Linked DNA regions of Homo sapiens. The protein of the gene in region 2 purifies or fractionates together with the protein of the main gene of each other region. This does not show direct contact. Each region holds a gene or a part of one and is shown on either strand. Other genes may lie near its edges.

Evidence for each region. Proteins that work in one complex are often made in the same cells at the same time.
Region 1: the proteins of ALDH1A3 (region 2) and DHDH purify together in Homo sapiens (co-immunoprecipitation; one large-scale study listed by IntAct). This does not show direct contact.

What each region holds. Positions count from the first base shown.
Region 1 is NC_000019.10:48,936,699-48,940,198, reverse strand, and holds part of DHDH (trans-1,2-dihydrobenzene-1,2-diol dehydrogenase), read right to left. Parts: intron 751-3,500; coding exon 498-750; intron 1-497.
Region 2 is NC_000015.10:100,882,831-100,886,330, reverse strand, and holds part of ALDH1A3 (retinaldehyde dehydrogenase 3), read right to left. Parts: intron 1,065-3,500; coding exon 960-1,064; intron 1-959. UniProt on the Homo sapiens protein: Catalyzes the NAD-dependent oxidation of aldehyde substrates, such as all-trans-retinal and all-trans-13,14-dihydroretinal, to their corresponding carboxylic acids, all-trans-retinoate and all-trans-13,14-dihydroretinoate, respectively.

The sequences.
Region 1 (3,500 bases), on a different chromosome or scaffold from region 2:
ATTTTTAGTAGAGATGGGGTTTCATCATATTGGCCAGGGTGGTCTCCAACTCCTGACCTCAGGTGATCTGGCCACCTCGGCCTCCCAAAGTGCTGGAATTACAGGCGTGAGCCACCACGCCTGGCCAAGTGGGGTAGTCTTTTTTGTAGCAAAGATTCACTGAGACAACTTCAAAAAATAATAATTTTATATTTATTAACTGCCATTTGCCTCAGCAGTTACTTCATTAACTCCCATGACAACCCTATTAGTGACACTTTACCAGTAAAGTAATTAAGATTCAGAGATGTTAAGTCTGCTGGCTAAGATCACACAGCAAAGTCCCAGGAGAGTGCCCACCTGCAGTCTTGACTCTGATCCTCTCTGGCTTCATGGAAAGTTGTTCCTCTAGGTGTCTGATCTAATTCTCATTGACTTGGAGACTTGTCCTCAGTTCAGTGCTCCCAGAGAGACAGAATCATTCCCATCACCATGAAATATTCCAGGATAGATGGTACCTGTTTCATGACGCCTTCCCACGACAGAAATCTTCTCTGGCTTCTGCCCTCCAAAGACCATGGAGGTGAACTGGACACAGTAGATGCCGATGTCCAGCAGGGCCCCCCCAGCCTGGGCCCGGTCTACGGCCCGGGGAACGTGGATGAGATTCTTCCCAAATTCTGCCCGAGCCACCCGGAGGTCTCCTAGAGTTCCCTGGGCCAAAACAGACCTCAGAGCCTCGGAGGCAGGAAAGAAGCGGGTCCAGATGGCCTGCAGACCACAAGGAAAGGAGTTAACCAACCAGTTCTAATCCCTTCTGGGGTCCCAATCATAGGGGGATACCCACTGCAACCCAGTCTCCAAACACAGCCCATCAGTCCCCAGGTTGTATCCCTCTTGCTCCTGACCCTCTTGACTTTTCTTCTTTTTCTTTTTTTTTTGAATAGAGATAGGGTCTCACTATGTCGCCCAGGCTGGTCTCGAACTCCTGGGCTCAAGCAGTCCTCCCACCTCAGCCTCCCAAAGTGCTGAGATTACAGGCATGAGCCACCGTGCCCTATTGACTTTTGTTCTTTTTCATCTGGACCATTGCCCCAGTCTCCCCATGTTATGGGATGAATTGTGTCTCTCTCCCTCTCGCTTCTGCCCTGCCAAACACAATTCACGTGTTGAAGCCTTAACTCCCTAGTACCTCTGAAAGCAACTGTTGTGGCCACAGGGTTTTCAGAGAGATAATTATGTTAAAATAAGGTCAAGGCTGGGCACGGTGGCTCACGCCTGTAATCCCAGCACTTTGCGAGTCCACAGTGGGCAGATCACGAGGTCAGGAGTTCGAGACCAGCCTAGCCAAGAGACCAGCCTGGCCAACACGGTGAAACCCCGTCTCTATTAAAAATACAAAAAATTTTAGCTGGGCGTGATGGCGCACGCCTGTAGTCCCAGCTACTCGGGAAGCTGAGGCAGGAGAATTGCTTGAACCCGGGAGGTGGAGGTTGCAGTGAGCTGAAGATCGCACCGTTGCACTCCAGCCTGGGCGACAGAGCGAGACTCCAACTCAAAAAAAAAAAAAAAAATGAGGTCATTAGGGTGGGCCCTTATCCAATATGACAATATGACTGGTGTCCTTATAAGAAGAGATTAGATGTAGGTATAGAGCATGCAGGCCAGTGGGTTTAAGAGTTACGTGTGCATCTCCTAGTGAAACTCCTTAAAGGAGGCATATAGATACAGAAGGTAGAAATAAAACTCTTTGTTCATAGATGACATCATCTATGTAGAAAAATGCAAAATGACAACAACAAAAAAAAACTCCTGGAACTGGGGGCTGGGCGCTGTGGCTCATGCCTGTAACCCCAGCGCTTTGGGAGGCCAAGGCGGGCGGATCACCTGAGGTCAGAAGTTCCAGACCAGCCTGGACAACATAGCAAAACCCCGTCTCTACTACAAATACAAAAATTAGCCGGGCGTGGTGGTGCATGCCTGTAATCTCAGCTACTCGGGAGGCTGAGGCAGGAGAATCACTTAAAGCCGGGCAGCGGAGGTTGCAGTGAGCCGAGATCACGCCATTGCACTCCAGCCTGGCGACAGAGCAAGACTCTGTCTCAAAAACAACAACAATGACAACAAAAACCAGAGTTCTACCTCTTGGAGCACCCAGTCTAGAGAGACAGAGAACAGGCAACCAAGGGATGAACAAAGGAATACCAAGGACACAAATAAAATGGAGGGTCCTTCACGCAGGACAGCCGGGACGGTGACACCCTGAGGAGGTGACATTCCAGGGGAGACGGAAGCTCCGTGGACTAGGCAAAGAGCCCAGAGAAAGAATGTCACGGGAGAGCCGGGAGAATGGGCAAAGGTCCCAAGGCTGCACTCCAGCAATTTCTTTTTTTTTTTTTTTTTTTTTTAAAGACAGTCTCGCTCTTGTCGTCCAGGCTGGAGTGCAGTGTCGGGATCTTAGCTCACTGCAACCTCCGCCTCCCGGGTTCACGCCATTCTCCTGCCTCAGCCTCCCGAGTAGCTGGGACTACAGGCGCCCGCCACCACGCCCGGCTAATTTTTTGTATTTTTAGTAGAGGCGGGGTTTCACTGTGTTAGACAGGATGGTCTCGATCTCCTGACGTCGTGATCCGCCCGCCTCTGCCTCTCGAAGTGCTGGGATTACAGGCGTGAGCCACCGCGCCCGGCCAATTTTTGTACTTTTTTAGTAGAGACGGAGTTTCGCCATGTTGGCCAGGCTGGTCTTGAACTCCTGACCTCAGGTGATCTGCCCGCCTCGGCCTCCCAAAGTGCTGGGATTACAGGCGTGAGCCACCGCATCTGGCCCACACCAGCAATTTCTAAAAATGCTGACGCAAGAGTGTCAGGGCTCACGGGGGAAGGGCGGGGCAGGACGGATGTGGCCGAGGTCCGCCCGGGCTCGGAGCAGTCGAGAGGAGCGTGAACACAGGCCTGAGGGCACTGGGGAGCCGGGGGCAGGCTCTGCGCAGGCTCTGAGCCTGGGTGTTGTGGCAGTAGGCTACTGGTGCCCCCAAAGATATCCACGACCTGATGATCCCCGGAGTCTGTGAATGTGTGACTTTACAAGGCTAAGGGGTCCTGGCGGATAGGATTACATGAAAGACCTTGAGGTAGGGGCCGGGCGCGGTGGCTCACGCCTGTAATCCCAGCACTTTGGGAGGCCGCGGCAGGAGGATCACTTGCAGTCATGAGTTTGAGACCAGCCTGGCCAACATGGTGAAACCCCGTCTCTACTAAAAATACAAAAATTAGCTGGGCATGGTGGCGGGCGCCTGTAGTCCCAGCTACTTGGGAGGCTGAGGCAGGAGAATCGCTTTAACCTGGGAGGTGGAGGTTGCAGTGAGCCGAGATCGCGCCACTGCACTGCAGGTTTGTAGGGGGTTCCTTGGTCCTTTCAACCTCTACCTGGAACCCCACCCAAACTAAGCCATTGCCATTCTATGCCACTTTCACTCTTGGCATCTTTTTCTTGTTTTTTTTTTTGTTTGTTTTTTTTCTTG
Region 2 (3,500 bases):
AACCCCATTCCATGTCATGGCTTCCCCCCAATGCCCTCACATTTTTCTATGAGCTCCTCTGTGCCACTTTCTTTGTTAGCAGAGCCTAACTGTCATGAGGTGCCACACAGAGGGGGGTCTGTATAGGTGGGGCCAGTGTGCATTTGCACGTCTGTCACAAAAACTCATGGGCAAGATAAAATCCAAGCCTACTCTGCACACGCCCTTCACTGCATCCACTTCCAACGTCATCAGTTTGCTGACCAAGAACATCAGTCCAGCACTCCAGCAGCTAAGGAAACATTTACATCTCCCTGCCCTCAGTGGAAGGGCTTTACCTCTGCACTGACATTCAGAATAGATTTGATGGCCTTGCAATGTATAAAGGACACATTCGGAAGTCCCTTAGCTTCTGTATTACTATATAGACCTTGCACTTGCAAATAGAGTGATAAAGGTTACCGCTTTCCATGCTCATGTAAATTTCTAGGAGAAAAGAAATCTGGTGGTTACATTGTTAACTATCCCCGCATCACCCGGGTAGCAACTATTTTTTTTCCTTCAAAGTGTCTATTTTTTTCTAAAGTGTCTTCTGCCAGAAAGCTTCATTTCGTGAAACACACCAGCGGGAAATGCTTTCTGGAAAGATTCTTTAATGCCTCCAGGTCCAAATAATTGATAAAAAAAAAAAAAAAAGAAAAAAGAAAACCTTTCCTTTAGCCATATGATGAGGATAGCTGAGGTCATCCTCATAGTAGGAGAAACATCTATCAAGGGAGAATGATTCTCTGCAGAGGATCATCGGTAATTGATGCCATTCTGTGCCACACGTCTGAGAACCACATGCCAATTCACGCAGCTAGCCCAGGCCCTGCCCCCAGGATAGGCCAGTTCTGTCTTATAGCTAAGCCGAACCGTTTCCTTATCCTTTGGTCATCCATAATTGAATTACTTAGAGCAAATTTATTTTAAGTATTTACCTTATCTCCTTCTTCCACTTCACATATTTGCTCCCGAGTTGAAGGGTTACATGTAGCAAACTTTTTCCCACTCTTGGATTCGTGCCATTCATTGTTGATAAATATCTAACCAGGAAAGGAAGTGTAACCAATTAGGTTTAGATCAAAATCATATAATTTCAACATGCTAAGGACCTTAGGTGACGTCTTATCCATCTTGTCCACCTTCCTCTCTGCTGCTTCCCTCTCCCCTTCGACATCTTATAGATGAGACCCGGAGGGGAACAGAGTCCCAGGACTGCATGACCAACAGATCAACTAGGACAGACTCGAAATTCAAGTTTTGGTCAAATAAAACTATAGTCACTTAGAGATTTTTTTCTAAATTATTATTATTATCTTCAGCAATAACATGGATTCACAGAGGAATGGCTAAGTTAAATGGTTAAATAGAGGCTGTGAATGGAATCTCATACCCCAATAGACTTTGGGGGAAGAGTCAATAGGTTTATATACATAAAAGTCCCAAGCAGTCCGCCTGCCCCTGAAGGGTAAGGACGCACCGAGCACTCCCTTTCTCCTTTCAGTGGCAACACTCAGCAAGATTGATTGCCAAGGAGCTCACTTTGAGGAGGATCTCACCATCGCCCTTCAGTTTTCACCAATGCACATCAGCATGTCCCTCCCCAGCACATTCCCCTTAAAATGTGTATTTTCATAGCAAACCACCATGGCGCATGTTTACCTATGTCACAGACCTGCACATCCTGCACATGTACCCTAGAACTTAAAATAAAAGTTGATAAAATGTCAAAAAAAAAAAAAAACCCAGAAAAACCTCCGAAGCTTGATAATAAACCAGCGTTGAAGTACAAAGTTAAATGTCTGGGTTAGAAACTTTCCAGGTTACATTAAGAGATGTCGCAAATAACTGTTTATATAACCCGCAGAAATCACTTTTCTGGGAACCTCAATGATCCAGAATGCAGATGAGAATGAAAGTTTTTTTGACAAAAGACATCATGAGCAGACTAAGAAGAACATACGAAGTCCATGCACTGAAACATATGTACTATTTACTGTTAGTTTACACTAAGTTCTAATTGTCTTATTAATGTCATATTAAAAGAGAGGGCTTTTGGAAAAAACTAGGAAGAGACATGACAGACAATATACAAAACACATTCCGACAGCACGGAGGTCCCCGGCTGCCCAGCCAGAAGACACACAAACTCCTGCTACACCAACTTGGAATGGCTTCCTCATCACAGCCTATCACAGCATCAGAAGAACCCCCGTGGCAGAAATGGCTGACACGCATGTCTCTCAAGTAAAATGCCGTCAGTAATTTCTGAGTACAGAATTAGTTCATCAGGTTCCGTTTTTACATCTATCTGCATGTGGTATACATAGCTTTACTTTGCTTCTTTTTGAATTGTTTAAAGGAAGAATTGCGTCCCTCAAGGGCTAATTTCAATTATTGTGAAATTGATTCATTTGAAACATTTGACTCCCCAGTGATGACAGATGAGAGAGGGCAGCCATCTCCTAAGCATGAGTCTTGGTTACATTCTCTGTATTGGGCTTCCTGTATAAACTCCACAGCTCCGGCTTAATACCTGGGTGATGGGTTGATCCATGCAGCAAACCACCATGGCACATGTTTACCTATGTAACAAACCTGCACATCCTGCACATGTACCCCAGAACTTAAAAGTTGATAGAATGTTAAAAAAAAAAAAAACCCACAAAAACCTCTGAAGCTCATAGTGAGGAAGCCTGGTCTGAGTCGGTTGGGGACCAAGCACAGGAGGCAGACTCTGGCTGGGCAGGTGAGCAGAGACCAGCTGCCCCCCAGTTTGGAATCCAGAACTGAGAGCATCGGTCACCATTGGGATTTGCCTGTCTGGCTTCTGGAAGCTTAGCGTCTCCAATGTGAGGCCAGGCCCCCAGGGAAGCGCACCAGGAAAAGGCCAGGCTACAATTACAGGTTTATTCTTCCAGCTGAAACTAAATCCAAGAGTTCACTTTTGCCATCCAGCAAGTCATCACTTGGTAACAGCGAGAAATTAATAACTGAGGAAGAAGAGTTAAGTTAGTGCGGGGAGGAAAGTGCAGCCAGGAAGAGGGGCCCATTTGTAGAAAGATGAAATTTCGTGGGTTAGATAATAGAGACTGTCAGTGAAAATTGCTGATTCTAGGTCCTTCCTGGTATCAACTCCAAGGGGGAGGGAAAATGAGAAGGTGGCAGAAGAGAATATAAATAAGGGGGCTGAAAACAGATTACAATGATCGGATGTCTGCTATACTGCTATACTTCATCTCCAAGCATGCTCCTCCAAAAAAAATTACTGTTTGTTCATGACATTGATCTGTAACCAGCAACCTTAAAAAAAAATCAGACTGTTTGACTCTAACCATATTTTCCCATCACTATGTTTTTAATTTTGTAAAATCTTTTACTTTATACCACACTACAGTAGTAAGTAATCTTGTAAGTGGTTTCTACTGTTGATTTTTCTCTCCATTAAAACAAAACAAAAGCACAAATATAAGGAAAGG